Linked DNA regions of Homo sapiens. The protein of the gene in region 1 purifies or fractionates together with the protein of each later gene. This does not show direct contact. Each region holds a gene or a part of one and is shown in the gene's direction. Other genes may lie near its edges. The genes, in order: GUCY1A1, PLA2G4D, SERPINB7, SULT2B1, LCP1 and ALDH1A3.

The links.
Region 2: the proteins of GUCY1A1 (region 1) and PLA2G4D purify together in Homo sapiens (affinity purification with mass spectrometry; one large-scale study listed by BioGRID and IntAct). This does not show direct contact.
Region 3: the proteins of GUCY1A1 (region 1) and SERPINB7 purify together in Homo sapiens (affinity purification with mass spectrometry; one large-scale study listed by BioGRID and IntAct). This does not show direct contact.
Region 4: the proteins of GUCY1A1 (region 1) and SULT2B1 purify together in Homo sapiens (affinity purification with mass spectrometry; one large-scale study listed by BioGRID and IntAct). This does not show direct contact.
Region 5: the proteins of GUCY1A1 (region 1) and LCP1 purify together in Homo sapiens (affinity purification with mass spectrometry; one large-scale study listed by BioGRID and IntAct). This does not show direct contact.
Region 6: the proteins of GUCY1A1 (region 1) and ALDH1A3 purify together in Homo sapiens (affinity purification with mass spectrometry; one large-scale study listed by BioGRID and IntAct). This does not show direct contact.

The regions. Positions count from the first base shown.
Region 1 is NC_000004.12:155,715,320-155,718,927, forward strand, and holds part of GUCY1A1 (guanylate cyclase soluble subunit alpha-1), read left to right. Parts: intron 1-1,839; coding exon 1,840-1,983; intron 1,984-3,608.
Region 2 is NC_000015.10:42,070,551-42,074,158, reverse strand, and holds part of PLA2G4D (cytosolic phospholipase A2 delta), read left to right. Parts: intron 1-1,766; coding exon 1,767-1,884; intron 1,885-2,247; coding exon 2,248-2,385; intron 2,386-2,607; coding exon 2,608-2,715; intron 2,716-2,841; coding exon 2,842-3,036; intron 3,037-3,275; coding exon 3,276-3,442; intron 3,443-3,608. UniProt on the Homo sapiens protein: Calcium-dependent phospholipase A2 that selectively hydrolyzes glycerophospholipids in the sn-2 position. Has a preference for linoleic acid at the sn-2 position.
Region 3 is NC_000018.10:63,774,011-63,778,299, forward strand, and holds the start of SERPINB7 (serpin B7), read left to right. Parts: upstream 1-1,407; 5' UTR 1,408-1,706; intron 1,707-3,770; exon of another isoform or gene 3,771-3,815; intron 3,816-4,289. UniProt on the Homo sapiens protein: Might function as an inhibitor of Lys-specific proteases. Might influence the maturation of megakaryocytes via its action as a serpin.
Region 4 is NC_000019.10:48,586,576-48,590,183, forward strand, and holds part of SULT2B1 (sulfotransferase 2B1), read left to right. Parts: intron 1-653; coding exon 654-862; intron 863-3,608. UniProt on the Homo sapiens protein: Sulfotransferase that utilizes 3'-phospho-5'-adenylyl sulfate (PAPS) as sulfonate donor to catalyze the sulfate conjugation. Responsible for the sulfation of cholesterol.
Region 5 is NC_000013.11:46,154,615-46,158,222, reverse strand, and holds part of LCP1 (plastin-2), read left to right. Parts: intron 1-1,652; coding exon 1,653-1,785; intron 1,786-3,336; coding exon 3,337-3,418; intron 3,419-3,608.
Region 6 is NC_000015.10:100,903,742-100,907,349, forward strand, and holds part of ALDH1A3 (retinaldehyde dehydrogenase 3), read left to right. Parts: intron 1-1,781; coding exon 1,782-1,946; intron 1,947-3,379; coding exon 3,380-3,537; intron 3,538-3,608. UniProt on the Homo sapiens protein: Catalyzes the NAD-dependent oxidation of aldehyde substrates, such as all-trans-retinal and all-trans-13,14-dihydroretinal, to their corresponding carboxylic acids, all-trans-retinoate and all-trans-13,14-dihydroretinoate, respectively.

The DNA.
Region 1 (3,608 bases):
CCAAGACTGGATTATACTAGGGCTTTATTTAATTTTATTTTCTCTCTGTCTTTCTTGGGTTTTTGGCCATTTTTCTGTTTCTCTGTGTGTTCATTTACCCATTGTTTCAGCGAATATGTACTGGTTATCCAGCATTTGCCAGCATGGGTGCGCAGTGGCTACAGAGCTAGAGGGTACAATCCCTGTGAGGAAAGTTCACATATGGAGAGGGAGAAGAGGGCACAATGGACCAATGCCAGATTTCCATATGACGTGACGAAGGGATGCAGTATGCACAAAGGGCTGCAAAAGCAGATATGGTAGGCCCCTAACATCAGGTAGGGGTGGGTGTAGGACTTCTTCTAATTAGCCTATTTATTGAGCACCTGTGATGGCCATCATGATGAGCACTTCTTATGTACTCATTGCTGAGAAAAAGCTTATGGGTGGCATTGCCACCTGGTTCATTCATTACTGGGCACAGGTAATGTAGGAGTCAATAAACTAGATAAACTCAAAGGGCTTACATATGATTAGGGGAAACAAAGACAATAAACAAATGAGTAAATTTATAGTATTTAAGTCAGTATAATAATGTGAAAGAAAAATAAAGTAGGTTAAGGGGAAGAAGAAGGGCAGTGGGTAAGGGGTGATTGCTATTTCTTAGAGGGTGGTAGGAATCAGCTTTTCTAATAAGGTGAGGTTTTAGCAGGGACTGAAGGAAAGGAGGGACAACCACGTGGTTATCTGCAGAGAGATTGCTCCAGGAGAAAGGAATAGCAAGTGGGAGCATGTTTGATGTGCTTAAAGGATAATGGAAGGCAGTGACATTGGAACTAAGTGAGCAATATGGAGAATAAGAAGATAAAGTCAGAGATTAGGAGAAAGACAGGTAAAGAAGAAATCTGGAGCCATAATAAGGGTATCAGCATCTACTCTGAGGGGAATTTCTGAAGATTTGTGCCTCCTTTCTTTTTTCCTTTCTCACCCTCATCCTTTCACAATTGAGGCTTTGTGTAAGAATAATAGGGTCTTATAGTTACAATAAACATTTGGAGAAGAAGAAAAATGAAGCTCTTAGAATTAGGGGGTTATTTCTGGACTAAAATTAACTATCTGCTTTTTGCAGCCAGCATCACAGACAGATAAAAATTGCCTGTAACGACAACAATAATGATGATGATAATGATAAGGTTAATACTTAGATTTTTGATAATAGCTTGATTTCCAGTGGTCTTTCAAACACCACCGTTGTTTTTACCTGCTGGTTCAACATCTTGGTTTTTATAATTGTGATTAGTATCCATTAGATATGTAATTGCTATGAGGACCCCAAGGGTCCTTTAGAAGAACCGTTTCTCTTTACTCTTATGACTATTAATATCTTGGTTTTACATTGCACAATTTTACTGCATTGATGTGACATTTATTGAGTAGTGACTTGAGGCAAAATACTATTTTATGATGAGGAGGATATAAAACGAGTAAATGATCCCAACATCTTTAAACAATTTATTATAATTCAAAAATATATTGTTTCTACAAAAACTATCTTATATGGTGAAAAAAAAGAGATGAAATGATATGATGAGTCAGTGTGCAAATCTGGGAGTAGAAGTCAACTGTTACTGTGTTCATAGGACTGTACTGCCTCTCAGTGCAGTGCCTCAATGTAATGGGTCTAAACCTTGCGCATTTCCTGAAAAAGAAAGCCATTTCTGGGCGTATCTGATTAACCCTGATCCTCCAGAAGGCCTGAGCAATGAGAATTCTGCTATATGACTTAATTTCTTCTATCCGATGTAGGCTGTGATTCTTCCTGAGCATTTATTTATAGTATGGAAAATATATTATGTCTAGGTGGAGACCATTGGCGATGCCTATTGTGTAGCTGGGGGATTACACAAAGAGAGTGATACTCATGCTGTTCAGATAGCGCTGATGGCCCTGAAGATGATGGAGCTCTCTGATGAAGTTATGTCTCCCCATGGAGAACCTATCAAGGTAAGGCAGATGATATATTGTCCAAAAGATGTCACAAGAGCAAATGCGTATAGTTGATTACCAAAACCATGGTGTATCAGTTGGGGGTTAGTTGAGAGAGAGAGAGAAAGCAAAATCTATATAGAGAACACAATCTTCTCTAACTTGTTTACATTGGAAGAAATTTATTATAGGGTATTAAATGGCTTACAGAATCATTGAGAGGACAGAAGAACCCATCTATAAGTTGGGCTTTCAAAAAATGTTTCCCATAGTATAGGGATTTTCTATTGTCAAAGTAAAATGGCTTCTAAAGGCAAACTTCAGAACAACTGCATTTTCAAAAATCTGGAAGCTGATTCCAAAACTATCCTACCAAAGCCACAGTCAGGAAACTGCCATGTTCAGAAAGCTGCTGCCTCTTCAAAACCACATCTACTATAATAATCAGCAAGATGGCAATCCTGCATCATGACTTACAAAATGAGTGATGGGAAAATGGACTCTCTACTAAGCATGCTATAGAAAACACAAAGGCTTCCACAATTGTTCTTGAGTTATAGTGGAGATTGTGCCTGCCGAATCTCATGCAACTGTGCATCTGATTTACCAAGCCTAACTGCATTTAGAAGCTGCAAGTTAGTTTAGAAAATGTAGTTTTAGTTTTCCAGCCCCTGGAGGAGAGGATATTACATTTGAATGGATGTTGACTGTTAATTCACCAATATTTTCCAAGGCACGTGACATTTCAAAATTTCTAGATGAGCCAGATTCCAGACTAATATCTCACCACACATGAGGAAATAAAGTTAACATGGTAGGCATTGGTTTAACAGATAGAATATAAGCAGATTACCTTTGTCTCACAGTGAATCTGCCCCTTAATTTTTATAGGACAGTCCTCAGTTGACTACCTTCAGAAATAAGCCTTTGAGGTATTGTAAAATCTTATCCGGTATGCTATAAAACATATAGAGAAGAAAGAAGAAATTTAAAAACAAAACTATATTTGGAGATTTACCCTTAACTCTCTTTAACCTTAATAGAAGCCATATGTTTAAGCCTTCGTAACTATTTTCTAAGTCTATTGTCATCCCATTTATATGTTTCTGTGCAACATACTTTTCTAAATTTAATGGTATAAAATCACAAACTTTTATTATGCGTGGATTCTGTGCATCAAAAATTTGGATAAGTCATAGCAGGAATACCTCGTCTGTGCTCTACAATCTATGGGACCTCAGCTGGGAATACCGAAATGGGTGAGGGTGCCTGGAATAGCTGGGATTGCAACGATTGAAGCTGGAGGATTCATTCCAAGACTGCTGCTTCACTTACATGTCAGATTCCTTGGTGGGGATGGCTGAAAGGTTGGGTTCAGCTGGGATTGTTAGCGTTACATGTGATGCCCTAATATGTATTTTTTATGAGGTGGTTCATGTCCCACTGAACAAGACTGGTGGAAGCTGCATGACTTAGTCTTGGAAGACACACCGCAACACTTCCACTGCACTCTATCAGCCAGAGCAATCACAAGTCTGCCCAGAAGAGAGAGGGCTCAGAGCCCAAGAATCAATAGGAGGAGTGTAAAATAATTTGCAAGTATGTTTTAAAAGCATCACAATATCTGACTTTTTCAGATTTAT
Region 2 (3,608 bases), on another chromosome or scaffold:
GGCATAAATTGTGCAACTATAGTAAAAGGACACATTTTCCCTAGTCATATGTATCAAAAGAGCAACAGAGTTTCTAAATAAAAAGATTTTGAGAAGGGGTCACGTACACACATTTGTACCTAAGGACTGACTCGTACGTACACCACCACCATCAGTGGCAGGGGATCGAGCCCTATTTAGAGATTTCCTGCAAATTCCCTGTAATTCATACTGGGGACCATTGGAAAATGGGGTGGAAGGATGACTGTGGTTGACACATGAGTGTTCTCGTCAGGGACAGAAGAGCTGCCAGCAAGGAGGACACACACACTGGGTGTGTTGAGTTTCGCCATGGATGTGGGAGAGGGACCCTCCTTGGGTAGGCTGGGTAGGAATCCTCACACCTGGCTGGGCATCAGGATCATCTGAGGGTTTTTAAAAGGCAAACTCCAAAGTGACTTCTGACAGGCTGATTCTCAGGGGAGACCCAGAAGTCCGCATGCTTCACATGCTCTCACGTGTACACATTCACTGAGTCACTCTGATGATAAGGGCTGCTGCGGCAGGTTGGGAGCCTCTAGAACTAGACACTCTTCCATCTTGGAGAGCCCAAAGGAAGGATGACGTATTCATGGTACACATACTGCCCAGTAGAAACAGCCCAGGGCTGACAGCATCAACCTCAGCTCTGGCGGCAGAATCCTTCCCAAGGTGGTGCTCCAGGCAGGCACCACCATTCGCCTTGCTGGTGCTTGGGAAGAGCTCTATTTGCAATTCTAGCTCAGCATAGAATGAGGCCTTTCTGTTCCCTTACAATTCAGGGAGGCTCTGTGGAGGCTCCCCCAAAAGGCAAGCTATAGTCGTTGCCATCAAAGAGCTTGGGCCAGGCATGGTGCCTCACGCCTGTAATCCCAGCACTTTGGGACGCCAAGGCAGGTGGATTGCTTGAGCTCAGGAATTTGAGACCAGCCTGGGCAACATGATGTAACTCCATCTCTACAAAACATGCAAAAATTAGCCAAGTGTAACTTGTAGTCCCAGCTACTCTACTCGGGAGGCTGAGGTGGGAGGATCACTTGGGCCTGGGAGGTGGAGGTTGCAGTGATCCAAGATTGCACCACTGCACTCCAGCCTGGGTGACAGAGTGAGACCCTGTCTCAAAATAAAATAAAACAAAGGCAGAGCTTGGAGCTCTATTGAGGAGGAAATTAAGAACAGAAGGCAAGAATAATCAATGGGGTACAACCTCATGTTATGCAAAGCAAGAAAGAAGAGGGACGATGAGGGGGAGGCAAGGATGTCAGGAAAGCATTCGGGAGGAGCTGAAACTTGAACTGCATTAAGGTGAACCTAGAAGAGGGGGCAGTCCATCCCCTGGCATAGGTTGCAGTATATGCTAAAAGGGCATTGCTGCATCCTTTCTACAAAGCAATACGTGGATGTGTGCATGTGTCCTTGTGTCTGTGTGTCAGTATCCACACCCACTTCACCCTTAAATCCACGAAGATGGGCCTGGAAGCACCGCTGGCATTGTGGTCCCTATGAATGGCCCTCGCTGGAGATTCATAGTACACAGCCTGCATGCCCTGTCCAGCGACCCTGCATCTAGGGCTGTTCAGAACACAGGGGCAGGAGTGGGAACTGACCCACATATGGTCCCCAGACCCCACGGGAGGAGCTGCCTCCTCACCCCCAGCCAGGTCCCCCATCCTGCCCCTGTCCTGGCGGAGCCACTGCCTCCAGGGTACTCCCAGCCTCACTTAGGCCCTGATGCCCTCTGGCCCCAGGTGATGGATCAGAAGCTGTCAGGACAGAGAGCCGCCCTGGAACGGGGTCAGAACCCTCTGCCCCTCTACTTGAGCCTCAATGTCAAAGAGAACAATCTGGAGACACTGGACTTCAAGGGTACAGTTCTACCTACTCCCCTCCCACATACTCCACCCCCCAAACCCTCTGCACCCCGACAGCCCCCAGAGAATTCATGCTGGAAGCTCCGCACAGATTGCCCAATGTTCCGGAAGGGCAGTGGTGCTGAGGGGCTCAGGGCATCTCTCTGTGCTTGAGAGTGGGTAGTGCTTGAGGGTGTGGACCAAGGGCTGGGAGGGGTGTGGTCAGTCCAGGACTGCCCATTCCTCACATCTGCTGCATTGGTGCCAGGCACAGCAGGGCTCAGGCCTGCTGGGGGCAGGGGCAGTGTCTTTCGCCAGAGCTGGGGACTCCCGCAATCCACTCCCCTCACACTCCTGCCTCTCCTTCCCACCCCATTAGAGTGGGTTGAGTTCTCCCCCTATGAGGTCGGTTTCCTGAAGTACGGGGCCTTCGTCCCTCCTGAGCTCTTCGGCTCCGAGTTCTTCATGGGACGGCTGATGAGGAGGATCCCGGAGCCCCGGATCTGCTTTCTGGAAGGTGAGGGTGGTGGCTCTGAAGGCCCTGGGCAGCCCTGGGCCAGGTGTCTGAATGGACATGGGTCCTGTAGCTCAGGTGGGGCAGAACCTCAGGACAAGGGGGAGGGGTGGCGGGGGGGATGCATTGTAGGGGTAGCCCTCGCCCCACTCCCATTTTCCATCAGTACCTGAGGGTGGGGCCGCTGGCTGGGGCCTGAGGCTGATCTCTTTTGGTGTTCCTCAGCCATCTGGAGCAACATTTTCTCCCTGAACCTGCTGGATGCCTGGTATGACCTCACCAGTTCTGGGGAGTCCTGGAAACAGCACATCAAGGACAAGACCAGGAGCTTAGGTGGGAAGGGCAGGGGCACTGAGGGGCCTGGGATGACGCTGTTCCTTTAGAATGCTTGCGGTGTGCGGTGTCTGAGGGGAAGAAGTAAGGGGAAGAAGGGACCAATTTCTGTTTCTCTGGCTTCAGAGAAGGAGCCCCTGACCACCTCGGGGACCTCCTCGCGGCTGGAGGCCTCGTGGCTGCAGCCAGGCACGGCGCTGGCCCAGGCATTTAAAGGCTTCCTGACAGGCAGGCCCCTCCACCAGCGCAGCCCCAACTTCCTCCAGGGCCTCCAGCTGCACCAGGACTACTGTAGCCACAAAGACTTCTCCACCTGGGCAGGTCAGGGCCGTGGCCAGGGGTCCCTAGGTCACAAGGTTGGGCCTCTGGGTGGTGTGGCAGGGACTGGCTGAGGCCTAGGAGGTCAGCATCCACTTCTGGGGTGTGGCCTGGAGACGATCCCCTTGGAAGGTCCTGGGGAAGGGCTGGGTGGCATTTAAGGAGTGACCCAGAGGAGAGAAGGGGACATGGATGACCTGTGGCAGGGTGGTGGCCTCTGACCATCCTGCGATTCCCACCAGACTACCAGCTTGACTCCATGCCCAGCCAGCTGACCCCCAAGGAGCCCCGGCTCTGCCTGGTGGACGCCGCCTACTTCATCAACACCAGCTCTCCCTCCATGTTCCGGCCAGGCCGCAGGCTGGACCTCATCCTCTCCTTCGACTACTCCCTATCTGCGCCCTTCGAGGTACCCTGGTCACCCCAGGGGAACCCCTCTGCCCAGCCAGGCCAAGCTCCAGAGGCGAGCAGCAGGGCCACTGAGCCCCTGCCCCACACCGCCGGGGTCCCGAAGGGAAGGAGAGGTGTCAGGCCTTGATCTGCTGGCTCCTGCCAGGGTCCTTAGGTGGGAAGGC
Region 3 (4,289 bases), on another chromosome or scaffold:
GGATATGGGATTCAAAATATTCAGCCTATGAACACTGCAATTAGAATATGGAGAACAGGGAATCCATTTGTAGGCTCATTTTTTTTTTATATTAACAACAACCTTCTCCTTCAGAAAGTTCACCACAACTGCTAAATCAAAATTAAATTTCAGGGATTTTCTGCAACTTTACTTTTCTCTATGATTATTCTACTCATAAACAATCATGGAGGTGAGCAATAACTACTTTATTCGATTTTGGATAAGTTAACAGGACCCCCTTCTTCCTGGGAAAGAGGCAAAATTGCACAAAATTGAGAGGCGAGCAACTGTAAGATGATGGTACCTTCTAATTCCAATAGCTTTTTACAATAGAGAACCCAGTTACTTGGATAAATGTTGGCTGTACTTTTGAAAACACTCAGGCAGAAGGACCAGGCTTGCAGTCATTTCCATGCATAGCAGGTGAAGGTAGGTGCAACATACAGCTCAACCTCATGATGCTACGGCCAGAAACTGAAATGTGTTTTTGCCCCTGTGTGGCATGTTCTGATGGCAAAGGTGTAGGCAACCAACTGGGCCCAACCTACCTTTCCCTACACCTGGTCACTTTTCAAAGTGCAAACCCACTTTAACAAACTCTAGCCTGTATTATAGGAGGAAGGATCTGGGTGGTGCAGACGTGGCTTTCCATTGCCAGATCAGAAGGGTGGAGGAGAGGCTGGCAGGATGACAAGAATGAATGAACACACCAAGTTTCAGCTCCTATCTGAAGCTGCTCAGTTCAGGTAAGCATTTAGAGAAGCCAGTTGCAATAACTAACAGGGCAAATGTTTCTCTGGAAAATTCCAAGCCAGAGAAAATTGAGAAAAAGAGGGAAGGATGGAAAGCAGTACAAAGAGAAGCCAGCTCAAAAGGTTAGAGGTCCAGATGAAAATCTGAGATTGGAGAATGATAAAAAACATTGTGTGAGATTCTATTTTAGGTCATTATGCTAGGGAAATTTACACAGGATAGGGTTGAAAGAAATTAGGCTATAAGATGAGTGGCAAGTTGCAATAAAATGGCACCCTAAACTCACCAAGTCACTGTTGTCACTGCTATCTTGCCTTAGTTGATTTGATGTCTAGTTAGTCTATTTGTGTGTTTCTCACAGAAGAGTATGTTTTGACCCAGGCTGACAGATACTGTTGATTCTGAAATTTGTTTTTATGGTTATGTTAAAACCATTGTCATTATAAGAAACAGAGATGGGAATATTGCCTCCTGAAATCTGATTCACATACAAACTGAATGAACTACATAACAACCACCTTAGTCAGATACTATTTTGAAACCTGGTTCAAAACCTAAATGCTTATAAGATTCTTGAGAGACAGTGCTGTGCTCTGAGTCATAGGGAAGCCATCCCAGAAGCCAGGTCTACTCATCAATAAGCAGCTGCCTGTGCAGAGTGCAGGCTGCACCTTTGGACAGCCTTTAAAACTGAATTCTCAGAATTTTAGAACAAATTTTTGTCTAGAAATGCTGACTTTGGTTCATTAGGTAGTGGTAAAACAGGCTCCCTTCGAAGCTCTCCTTCATCACCTTCCTAAGTGCATGGGGGAAAATACCTAGGGCTCAACAGTCTTGAGAAGTGTGGAAACATTTTCTTTGTGAGTGAGAACAGATCACCTAGAGAAAGGAGACCAGATTCCCATCACTGCTTCTGGGTATCAGATGCTAGCGTGAGTACACTGTTGATTTGCTTATCCAATTATTGATTTACATTATTGCTCTTATCTTCTGTTGTAGGCAAGAGGTAAGTTCACTAACGAATCTCAAGGAAGATGTAAATGGCCAATGATCATGCTCAGAGGCCTGAAATCTCTCCAGGTCGCCTCCTTGGAGGGATGCTTTTCTGGTGGGGCAGCTTTTATCACCATACACAAATGTGCTTGGGTTTGGATTCTGCTGGAGAGAACACTGTGACCCGTGGTCTCTTCCTTGGGCCATGTCAGTCAGTCTTGGACTTATTTTGCATCCTATTCTTTACCTCACTGATGCCTGTGTATCCTTGGCTTGGTGTCCCAGCCCATTGTCCATCAAAACCTGCTATCAGGAATAGATCAATTATCAGTTATACACAATGCGCCATGACCCTATCCCAGAGGCATTAGGTCATTTGGCTTCATGTTTTTTTTGTTGTTGCTGTTGAGTTTTAAAATAATGAAATATAATGTAGCTACATAAAGATGAATTCAATAGATGCATACAATTTAATAATAGAACATCACCAGAACCTCTAAAACCTCCCTCCCCATTCTTTCACCAACAAAACCTCCCCACCCACTAGGGGTAACTAAAGCAGTTATATCCGTGGCTTAGTCTATCCACCCATGTAAGCATCCATTAAAAAACAGTTTTGTCTGGTTTGATCTTTTCATGAAGGGCATCTTACTGTGTGTATTCTTTCGTGCCTGATTTATTTGCCTTCTAAACCTTACTTCTATCAGTGGCGTGGGAGCTGATGGCTACTGCTGTGGTGATTTCAGACAGTCTTGAGAAGATGAGGGTAGAGTTTTGTGGTCAGAAACCTTCTTGTGTGCCTTAAGATAGTGCGAATTGAAAGACCATGTCCTGGTATGAAGCATAGTTTTTGGGTATACTAGATAAACCAAGGTCTGTGAGAAGCTCTGGTAGACAAAGGGAAGAAGTGGGTCCCAATGGACGTCTAACAAGGACTGGGGGGTTTAAATCATTAAGACTATGATAATTTTATCCACAGTTGATCTATAAAGTGTACTATGATATACTTTTCACAATGTAAGCTTTCTCTGGAGTTAATAATTATCAAATTTGCTCATTTTTTGGATATTTATTTGGTTTCTAAGTTCCTATCACTAATGTATTTCTTTTCTGATGGGGGTAGATATCCCTCTCCATGTGTTCAATATATTCTAACGCATCTCTCTCTCTGATAGCATATTCACCTTAGAGAGCTTCAAACAGTCAGCATACTCAATTTTAGCATTAATCATACAACGAAAATAAAGGCAGTATGGGCAAACACTTGTGGGAAATAATGTGTAAGATAAAGTCAGAAACACTATGTGAGGTACAACCCTACTTCTCTTGAGAGGGACAGCTCACCTGCCTCCCTTAAATACAATGTTCCCCAAATACAGCATAAATACCATGTTAGTGATTATACACATACATAGCAACACACACATATATATATGTGTGTGTGTACTAATGAAAATGTAATTGGTGTGAATTTTTATTTTATGGATGAGAAAAGGCCCACTCTATTCTATAGCACTTTGCTTTCTTCACCTCTCTGGGACTGCAGTGCTACTCCTCTATGACAGTTGAATTTATAGATGTCAGAATATGAATTATTCCAGGTGGGGCTCGGTCATATTCATCAAATACCAAAATCAGAGCAGGGAGGAATCAAATAAACAATAACAAAAATCAGTAACTACATTTCCACATGTAAGAAGTGCCAGTTGTGCCTTAATGTAAGGATATCTAAATTTACTACATAAAAATACTATGTGATACTAAATATCAAATGAAATAACATTTCATGCTAAAATTTGATTCATTAAAAATATCTATTTGACTACTTTGAATTAGAGCTATAGCTAATATTCTACAGACTTCTTTTAAATTGCTCTATAAAGCATCTGAATATATTTATTTTAATGACATTATTTAAAACTATCATGGCCATCATAAAAAAAAAAGTAGGGAGTGTCTGAGTCAGAGGCTTTATATTTCAGAGTAATGCAAAGAACTCTTTCAGACTCACCCAACCAGCGGCCAACTTCCTCTATGAAGACAGTAAGGTAAATACTTCTGAAGTCCATAATTTAAAGTCTGGCCAGATCCTTTGAAAAAAGACACACACACACACACACACACACACACACACACACACACACACACAGACACAGAGAGAGAGAGAGAAATAAATCTTGGTTACTTTGTGTCTGAGACATTAAACTCATCACACAACATCCAGATCGGATAATGGTCCTCTTGTCTGCTTCTCCACCTTACAGCTTGTCTATGACTGATTTAAGTGGTGTCATGGGAGAATGGCATGGGAATCGGATGCCAGCTGAAAAATTTGTGTTCCATCTTTGAAGAGATAAGTAGGGATTATGTGCAAATCTAGATTCTATATTTCCTGTGTTCTTATTTAAGGCATTATAGGTTGGAATATACTAGATTTTGAGATTAGAATTGAACTCTTTTAAGTGCATAATATACTAATTTGATTAGAGGTTGATCAAAATTTGAAACTATGTTTTTAAAAG
Region 4 (3,608 bases), on another chromosome or scaffold:
TAGCAGCAGGGGAGAAGAGAAAAGGTCATCACGCCATATTCCCAGCAGAAAAATGAAATGGGGTTGGGTGGACAGCTCACCAGTCTCTGCCCTGCACCACTTTCCTAGCTTTGTCCCCTTGGACGAGCGACATGGTTTCTGTAAGGCTCAGTTTCTGGCTCCGAAAATGAGGTTAAGCAACCTTGCCTTCTCTGCCAGCTGTAAGGAATCAGTGTGATAAAATAGGTGGTAAATTGCTCAATAAATGCTGTCAGGCAGGGCGTGGTGGCTCACAGCTGTAATCCCAGCAGTTTGGGAGGCCGAGGTGGGCAGAGCACCTGAGGTCAGGAGTTCGAGACCAGCCTGGCCAACATGGGGAGACCTCGTCTCTACTAAAAATACAAAATTAGCCAGGCGTGGTGGTGGGCGCTTGTAATGCTAGCTACTCGGCTGAGGCTGAGGCAGGAGAATTGCTTGAGCCTGGGAGGTGGAGGTTGCAGTGAGCCGAGATCGCGCCATTGCACTCCAGCGTGGGCAACAGAGTAAGACTCTGTCTTAAAAAAAAATAATAAAAGGTGGCAAATTGCTCAATAAGTGCTGTTGTGATTATTCTGATGATATCTCCCTCTTCAGCCCTCCCACACCCAATTAATCTGCTCGATTTCTCCCAACAGGCACGACCTGGATGATCGAGATCATCTGCTTAATCCTGAAGGAAGGGGATCCATCCTGGATCCGCTCCGTGCCCATCTGGGAGCGGGCACCCTGGTGTGAGACCATTGTGGGTGCCTTCAGCCTCCCGGACCAGTACAGCCCCCGCCTCATGAGCTCCCATCTTCCCATCCAGATCTTCACCAAGGCCTTCTTCAGCTCCAAGGCCAAGGTTGGGAGGAGGGGTGTGTGTCAGTTGGGAGGGGCTGCATGGGTGTATGGGGTAATGGGGGGACGGAGCATAACTCATTGATTCATTCAGCACCTATTTGTTAAACACCTACTATGTGCCTGACTCTGATCTAGCACAGTGGTCAATATACACACAGAAATGCCTGCCCTTTGGCAGGGAGTGATGGCTCATGCCTGTAGTCCCAGCACTTTGGGAGGCTGAGGCGGGAGGATCACTTTGGGCCAGGAGTTTGAGACCAGCTTGGGCAACATAGTCAGACCACATCATTACAAGAAATTTTAAAAATCAGTCAGACGTGGTGGCACACACTTGTAGTCCCAGCTACTTGGAATGCTGAGGTGGGAGGATCACTTGAGCCCAGCAGGTCAAGGCTGCACTGAGCTGAAATCACCTTACTGCACTCCATCCTAGGCAACAGGGCAAGACTGTCTCAAAAAAAAAAAAAAAAAAAAAAAAAAAAAAAAAGCCGGTGCTGGCATGGTGGCTCACGCCTGTAATCCCAGCACTTTGGGAGGCAGAGGCAGGCAGATCACTTGAGGCCAGGAGTTCAATACCAGCTTGGCCAACATGGTGAAACCATGTCTCTACTAAAAATACAAAAATTAGTCGGATCTGGTGGTGGGTGCCTGTAATCCCAGCTACTCAGGAGGCTAAGGCAGGAGAATTGCTGGAACCTGGGAGGTGGAGGTTGCAGTGAGCTGAGATGGCACCACTGCACTCCAGCCTGGGAGACAGACCAAGATTTCATCTCAAAAAAAAAAAAAAAAATTACAGCCAGGCGCAGTGGCTCACGTTTGTACTCCCAGCACTTTGGGAAGCCAAGGTGGGCAGATCACCTGAGGTCAGGAGTTTGAGACCATCCTGACCAACATGGAGAAAACCTGTCTCTACTAAAAATACAAAGTTAGCTGGGCGTGGTGGCACATGCCTGTAATCCCAGCTACTTGGGAGGCTGAGGCAGGAGAATCGCTTGAACCCAGGAGGCGGAGGTTGTGGTGAGCCGAGATCGCGCCATTGCACTCCAGCCTGGGCAACAAAAGCAAAACTCCGTCTCAAAAAAAAAACCCCCATATATTATACTACATATTATAATAATTTAATAGTATTACAATATACTTTAATTATATTTAATATTTATATGTTTAACATATAATAACATAATGCAATATAATATAATACATAAAATGTCTGATGGGATAAATTTACATTGGGGGGAGAGGGCTGGAGATAGAGTTAGAGGTGGGTGTGGGGCTGCAATTATAAATAAGGAGGTCAAGGGGGCCCCCAGTGAGTAAAAACCCGGGAGGTGATGGTGGGAGCCACAGAGGTTTCTAGAGGAAGAGCATTTCAGGCAAGAGGGAAAAGCAGGTGCAAAGGCCCTGAGGTGGGTGTATCTGAGGTGCAAGAGGGAGGTCGGTGTGGCCGGAGCCAAGTGAGCAAGTGGGGAAAGGAGTGGAGATGAGGTCCGGGTGGGGAGGCAACAGGGGCCAAAATGTGCAGGGCCGCGTGGGCCCGGTGCGGACTTGAGCTCTGACCGAGTGACGAGGCAGCGCGGCAGGGATCGCAGCAGAGGAGGAGCCCGAGCGGGCTTAGGCTTCACCGGCGCCCTCTGGCGGTCAGATGGGGACCGACTGTCGAGAGAGCAGAAGCCGGGAAGCCCGAGAGGCGGCGCTGGCCGGGGTCCAGGGGAGGGGACGGTGGCTGGACTAGGGTGATGGTCACGGAGGTATTTTGAAGGTGAGACCGGGAGGATTTGCTGACAGACTGGATGTGGGTGTGAGAGAAGGGGATGAGTCAAGGGTGACTCCAAGGTTTCGGCGGAAGCAACTGTCAGGGTGGGGCAACTGGGAAGGGGAGGAGGGAGGGGAGCAGGCGGGGGAGGAAGACACGGGCTCTGCGGCGGCCCATCCCACGTCCAGCAGAGGCTGCCGGTGGGCACAGAAATGCACCCATCGGGATCTGAGGGGAGAGACTTGGGCTGACACGTCCATTTGCAATTCCTTGGCACATATATTCTGTAATTAATCGAAGCTCCAGGACTGGGTGATATCGCCAAGGAATTGAGCGTGGACAGAGCAGAGAGGGGGGGCTGCAATCAGGAAGTCCCCAAGACCACCCTCAGGCTCAACGACTTAGCAAAACTCATAGTGTTCAGCAAAGCTGCTGGACTCCCGGGTTATAGTCAATTACAATGAAAGCAAACGTGAAAATCAGGCAAGGGGGCCGGGCGCGGTGGCTCACGCCTGAAATCCCAGCACTTTCAGAGGCCAAGGTGAGCAGTTGATTGAGCCCAGGAGTTCAAGACCAGCTGGGCAACTTAGAAACACCCATCTCTACAAAAAAGTTTAAAAATTCGTCACGTGTAGTGGCATACACCTGTAGTCCCAGCTACTTGGGAGGCTGAGGTAGGAAGATCACTTGAGCCTGGGAGTTTCAGGCTGCAGTGAGCCATGATTGTGCCACAGGCACTCCAGCCTCAAGGACAGAACAAGACCTTGTTTCTTTTCTTTTTTCTTTTTCTTTCTTTTTTCTTTTTTTGAGACAGAGTTTCCCTCTTGTTGCCCAGGCTGGAGTGCAATGGCACGATCTTGGCTCACTGCAACCTCTGCCCCTCTGCCTCCAGGGTTCAAGCGATTCTCTTGCCTCAGCCTCCCAAATAGCTGGGATTACAGGCGCCCACCACCATGCCCAGCTAATTTTTTGTATTTTCAGTAGAGACGGGGTT
Region 5 (3,608 bases), on another chromosome or scaffold:
GATAATTTTTAACACCTGCTAAGTGATCAAAAAATTATGTTTTCATTGATTTGGAATAAATTTGTAAATTTATTCCGAAGGCTGCCATCCAACAGCCATAATGGAAACTTCCAACAGGCCAAACAGTATAGTTGTTGCAACATTTCCAAAACTGAATTATTCAAAACGTTAGTTGATCTTAAAGATAAACTCATGAGGCCGGGCACAGTGGCTCACGCGTGTAATCCCAGCACTTTGGGAGGCCAAGGCGGGTGGATCACCTGAGGTCAGGAGTTAAAGACTAGCCTGGGCAACATGGTGAAACCCCGTTCTACTGGGTGCAGTGGCGCATGCCTGTAATCTCATCGACTCGGGAAGCTGAGACAGGAGAATCGCTTGAGCCCAGGAGGCAGAGGTTGCAGTGAGCCGAGATTGCACCATTGCACTCCAGCCTGGCGACAGAACAAGACTCTGTCTCAAAAAAAAAAAAAAAAAAAAAAAAGATAAGTCATGATTAAATACCATCTATAGTTGCTAAGACAACGTTTGGCCTTTTGTTTTTAAATACAGGAATTTTCAGAACCTTTGCTGGGTCAAATGTGCAATGTGAATCTTTAAGGCGGAGATACATTCACTACACAGTATTTCCCAAACTTTTATGACTCAGGATTTCTCTGAGGGACACTACTGTTTTCAAAAACTGTCAGTTTGGGAAACATAGTGCTAGGCTGTGAAGACATAACTTGAGTTTTTATTAAAACATCTAAAAATCACCTTCTGGCAGCTTTACTGTTAGGAAAAAAAGATTATATCCAAATGATTTTATTTTATAGCAATTTAATTATAATTGTATCAAGAAACTCAGAGGTACAATAAGGATTGTCCACAGTGATCCAACATTTAAACCAGCAGAGCTAAAAGCGGAATCCTGAGTTTTGTCCTGTAAGCATTATACCACATTTGTATTTATATGTGTATATATATATGTATACATGCACATATAAATAAAATATTTTTATTATTTATGTATTTATATATAGAAAATAAACATATGTATATATTTGCTTCTAAATGTAAATATATATCTGGATTATGCGTATATATAGGAACAGAGAGATAGTTTTGGCCGGGCGCGGTGGCTCACACCTGCAATCCCAGCACTTTGGGAGGCTGAGGTGGGCAGATCACGAGGTCAGGAAATCGAGACCATCCTGGCTAACACGATGAAACCCCGTCTCTACTAAAAATACAAAAAATTAGCTGGGTGTTGTGGCGGGCGCCTGTAGTCCCAGCTACGGGGGAGGCTGAGGCAGGAGAATGGCGTGAACCAGGAGGCAGAGCTTGCAGTGAGCCGAGATCGCGCCACTGCACTCCAGCCTGGGTGACACTGTGAGACTCCATCTCAAAAAAAAAAAAAAGAAAAGAAAAGAAACAGAGAGATAGTTTTTAAATCTGTTTGCTCTATGTTTTATGACTTGGAGTACACAGACTCAATGCCTATTTCCCAAGTGATCTGAGATTTTTAAATCTTAATAAATATGAGATGATAAGATAATGGACTGAATAAACTCACATCTCTCTGCTGGGAATGAGAATTTAAGATCCACATGCATAATTTTGTTTATAATAGAGTTTCACTTTGCAAATGAGTCACTTTAATCATTTACTTGCAGAGGAAGAAAAGTATGCCTTTGTCAACTGGATAAACAAAGCCCTGGAAAATGATCCTGATTGTCGGCATGTCATCCCAATGAACCCAAACACGAATGATCTCTTTAATGCTGTTGGAGATGGCATTGTCCTTTGGTAAATAATACTTCTTTCTTGGTTTCCAAAGAATTGCCCATTTTCTAGACCATCAACAATTAATCGTTATTTATCGTAGGCCAACTTTGTTTGGTGCTCAGCTGCACCTAGAAGGCTTTTCTGGACTTTCACTTGGCCAGGTCCAGGACAGCAAACTAAATTCAAAAACAATTTATAATGAGAAATGTAAAATTGCTATTGCTTGAGTGGAGAGGAGGGATAAACATTATAGAGATAAACATGGAAGATATAGTTATACCAAGTCAAAAGCATTAGATGTCTAATCAATGTATTAGATAATTAAGTGGGGGAAACTTATAAAATACTGATTAAATAATGACTATAGAAGGACATTAAAAAGTTTATCTGATGACAAGTTTAAAGTATAAAGTTGGATCAGGCATCAAGCGGAAATGTAGACATTATGTAAGCTCAGAAGTACATAGATAGTCTCTTCTATAATGAGGACAATTTTCCTGGTTATATATTTTTGGAATATATGCTGCTTGGCTTCATCTGAGCGTGGCTCACCATGAAAGCAGATAGAATTGATAATAGCAGCAGGATGATGGAAGAAGTCCTTAAACTGTAGTCCTTAAGCAAAGAAACCTTTGAGTGATGCACAGAAATCCACAACTCAAACATTGAGGACACCTGGAAAAGGGGGACTGCATCCTACCCACGGGAGGCCTCTAAATATGGTGCTGCTCAATGCAACGTGGTGTCTTTGAAAATACCTCTGTAGCTCTTGCTTCAGCAGGTTCTCTGTCATCACAGGCCAAGTTGTAAGTGAAGTGACTTGAGGTGCTCAATATGTGAGGGACTCAGGACTTAAAGGATAACAATGGGTGGGAAAGACATTGAGCTTTCTCCTCTGCTCTGACCAGAGCAATTCTACTTTTGATATTTTATTTATTAGTTTGTCCTGAGAATTCATTTTTAAAAGGTTCAATTGCTATAAAAAAATCAAAATTCTAGCTTTTAGGTTGCCACCCAAGGCACCCCATGGTCTTCCCCCAATCTGCTAGTTTTACCTTCTAAGACCCCTGTGACTCATTGGTACTCAGCCTAGGGCACTGAGAAGGATATAAAAATGTTATCATATGATTAGCTGAAGATACAAAGTTTGGTCCTGTGTCAAATAGAAATGTAGACAATAATAAGCTCAGAATTTTGTAGACAGTCTTTTATATAATGGGGACAATTTTCATGGCTAAGAAAATAAAGTACTTATGGTAGAATTACTTTGGTTATCCACCCAGAATTTCCTAATGTGCTAAGAAAATCAGGATAATTTTGCAGCTGTTTAGGTGGGAGAATGAAGTGGGGTCCTCATTTCCAACCTCAATATATGAATGTGGCTTCAGTAGTATTCACCTTTCCCGCAGATAGTTTGAGTCTAGTCAAACGGCATAACTGATTTTATATCTAAACATCACAGATTCTGTTGCTATCTTCTTTGATTATGGTATTGCTAGAATTTAAATTCAACGTTACTGGGCTCTGTTATTCAGAAGACTGCTTTCTTTAATTTAATTGTTTCTCTTTCAGTAAAATGATCAACCTGTCAGTGCCAGACACAATTGATGAAAGAACAATCAACAAAAAGAAGCTAACCCCTTTCACCATTCAGGTATGTCTTCCCACCGTTACCATAATACAGGATTTGTTTGGCATCAATGAGCATCATAACTGCTGAGTCCGCCTTTTTCAGGGGCTCAGACATCATTCGCAAAACCCAGGCTTTGGGCTGGTGACTTGTCATACTTCAGGGATAAAGGGATACATTTCTGAGCAGCAAAGAAGGGAGACTGGTGGAGTGG
Region 6 (3,608 bases), on another chromosome or scaffold:
TACCGCTTATAATAAGCAAGGTAGAACATCTTATTATATATTTAAAAACCGTTTGTATTTCCTTTATTATCAAATGTGCTTTGCGTATTTTTCTTGCAAGCTGTTAGGCATTTTTCTTATCACTTCTAAGACCTCTTTACATACATAGTAGAGAGATTAGCTTTCTATGAATATGACTTGTTAATATTTTTTCCAAGTTTGTTGTTTTGCTCTTTGTTATGATAATTTTGCCCCCACCCCATTTTTTTTACATACTCAAAATTATACATCTTTTCTTTTTTGGCTTCTGCATTTTGAGTCATTAGAAGGCACTCCAAGTTTGCAGGATAAGTCTCCCACATATAAAACTTTTATGGTTTTGTTTTTCCTGGTTATATCTTTGATCTATTTGGAGTTTGGCCTGGTATAAAGTGTGAGGTATGGATCTGAGTTAGTATTTTTAAACTGGGTTTGGAGTTTGGCCTGGTATAAGGTGTGAGGTATGGATCTGAGTTAGTATTTTTAAACTGGGTTTGGAGTTTGGCCTGGTATAAGGTGTGAGGTATGGATCTGAGTCAGTATTTTTAAACTGGGTTTGGAGTTTGGCCTGGTATAAAGTGTGAGGTATGGATCTGAGTTAGTATTTTTAAACTGGGTCCATATTTCATGAGATGATTGGTCAAGTGGCATGCACGGTTTATGCCCTCTCTCCTGCTCCTCCAGGACAGACCGTCATCCAATTGCACCACTGGGTTTGCTTCTTTTTCTGTTTATGATCATTGGAATGAAACCAGTTTTCCCATCTAAAAATCCCAGCTAAAGTAAACCTAGTAAAGCTTTGTCTCTCCCAGCCAAAGAGGAGGGAGACCAGCCACAGATCATGATAAAGGACAAGATTCCCATAGATTTCAGGAAGAAGGACCAGTGGAGGGGGCAGAAAGAGCATTTTCCCTCTTGAGCAGTCTCCCAAAAGGGTGCGCTTTTGACAACTGCTCAGTAGCGTGTTCACAAGCTGTGGGTCAGGCTGGTGGCACAGGGCAAACTCCAGCCAAGGAGACGTCTAGACAAGATAGCAAAAGGGAGAGTCTTTCTCATGAGCTGTTCCCACCACCAACCAAGGAGCAGCCCTGCCACCCCACCTGGAGGCTCATTCTGCTTTGTCCCCAGGGGTGTTGAGTAAGGTGGTTAGCTTTTCTTCTCGCTTCTCTGCACCATGACAGGAGAATTCCAGTAACTATTACCCTGATTCACGGTGCCAACTGAGCAGGGCACAGGGTTGCCAGGTGATACATGGCACCCAGGTAAACATGAATTTCAGATAAACAGTAAATGCACTTTTAGCTTAAGTATATCCCAAATATTGTTTTGGGACATACTAAAAAAAATTATGTGTCATTTTTCTGAAATTCAGATTCACTGGGCATCCCGTATTTTTATTTGCTAAATTTGGCAACCTGAGTAGAATGTAAAGAGTTGGGAGAAGAAAGACTGTGACCACTTCAGACCTGTGTCACTCATGGACTAACTTTGCTGCATGGAAAAGGGAGATAGAAGTGTAAATATGTCCCAAACCTCCAGAGGATGAGACTAGTCTATCTCCCCATCTCTCCCCTGCTCCAAAGAGCCCAGCTCTGTGCATCAGAGGAATATTTGCCTGCAAGGCTCATTAGTTACATGGATCATGGCTTGACAAGAACATGCAGAGGGAGGATGGCTGATCATGTTGAAGGCCACTGAAAACATGAGATGGCAGCCACTGCCCAGAAGGAAGCCAGGCTGTACTTCTTGTTTGTGTCTTGCAGATTGATCAAAAGCAGTTCGACAAAATCTTAGAGCTGATCGAGAGTGGGAAGAAGGAAGGGGCCAAGCTGGAATGCGGGGGCTCAGCCATGGAAGACAAGGGGCTCTTCATCAAACCCACTGTCTTCTCAGAAGTCACAGACAACATGCGGATTGCCAAAGAGGAGGTACAAGGGGGCTGTGGCAAGGCTACGACTTGCGGGGCCTTTCAAACACGAGTCCTTCCCTAGGGCCCAGGGATCCCAGAAATCCTTGTGATCTGAGTGTTTTTTTGTTTTTGTTGCTGTTGTTGTCGTTGTTGTTTTTTCTGTGTGGTCTTTCCCCTCTCCTTTGGGGTCCCTAGGGAAGCCGTTTTGTCCTGCCTCTGGCGAACTCCAAGCATGATACAGCAGGTACCTTGTTTGTTCTAGCTAGTTTTCACTCATGGCTCACCCTCTCTGGGAGCAGCAAGCCCTCTCTGATTTTCTAACACAACCGGTCCCCGAGTCAGTCATGCAGCCGCAGGTGGAGAACTGTTGCCACCTGTGGGTTTTGCCAGGAATCAGTTCAAGAACCTGTGGATTCAGGGCCCAAAGCCGCCTTCAGTGCCCCTAGACTGAATTTCAAGTGTTCACTCAAGGAACATGTCACAGCTGGAATTTTTATTGACATTTTCCACCACGGACGTCTTGAAAATGAGGGAAATTAAGGAGACTCCCCCACTCCCATAAGAGTGTAAATCTTTCTCTTTCAACTCCACTGTTACACTAGACGGGAACTGGTTCCCACACAGCATTTGTAAGAGGAGAGCTGGATCCCAGGAGGTTAGACCCTGGAGGTGGTATTTTGGGGCACATAAAAGGATGAGTCCCTGCCAAGGGCTTTCTGGGGCAGGTATTTCAGAGGCGTCTTCCTTGAGATTGTTATGTGCCGTGATGGCATGAAGCTCAGCTCCTTAAACATCCCTGTGACGAGAGGTCCTGGGGAACCCGGAAGGTATTTTGGCAGGCCAGGCACCATCCTGCCGGCTTATAATTATGTCTAATATTGAATCAATTACAAGCTCCCTTCAAAATCACCTTTAAATGTTCAAGCCTTAGTTCTTCCATTTCCTTTTCTTTGCTGTGTCACAAACTGTGGTGAATATTGTGTCATTCCTTCCCCTGGTAGTTATTATGGAAACGTTCTAGGGTGTCTTCCTTGGTAGAAAACACAGCTCCAAGAGGTAGGAGCACAGTCTTACAAAGTGCCTGCAGATATCCTTCAGGACAACTCCGAAAAAAGTTACCTAAAGGTTTTGTGTTCTGTGCATCTATGGGTTACTCCAAGGCTCTCTGGCTGGGTTTCTCGGAAACCCTGATGACAACAAGACATCTTAAACACAACATATATTTTTTGTTATTATTTTTTATTTTTGTTTCATGTTAATCCTTCCCTTCAGTCTCCAATGGCAATGCAGCTGAAGCAATGTTTGGACGTTCTTTCTTCTCTAATCATCGTTTTTCAGGCATGTGTGTGCTCTGGGCATATGAAAAACATGTAAAGAGAAGGAAATGCTTGTTCACAGCATGCATTTCCATTCAGTCATGCCTCTCATTGCCATTCTTGCAATTAATCATAGATTTTCGGGCCAGTGCAACCAATACTGAAGTTCAAAAGTATCGAAGAAGTGATAAAAAGAGCGAATAGCACCGACTATGGACTCACAGCAGCCGTGTTCACAAAAAATCTCGACAAAGCCCTGAAGTTGGCTTCTGCCTTAGAGTCTGGAACGGTCTGGTGAGTTGACTGTGTGTGTATTTCAGCTCTCCTGAGTTGCTTCTTGCTAAGTTCATTATTCTTCTATTAAC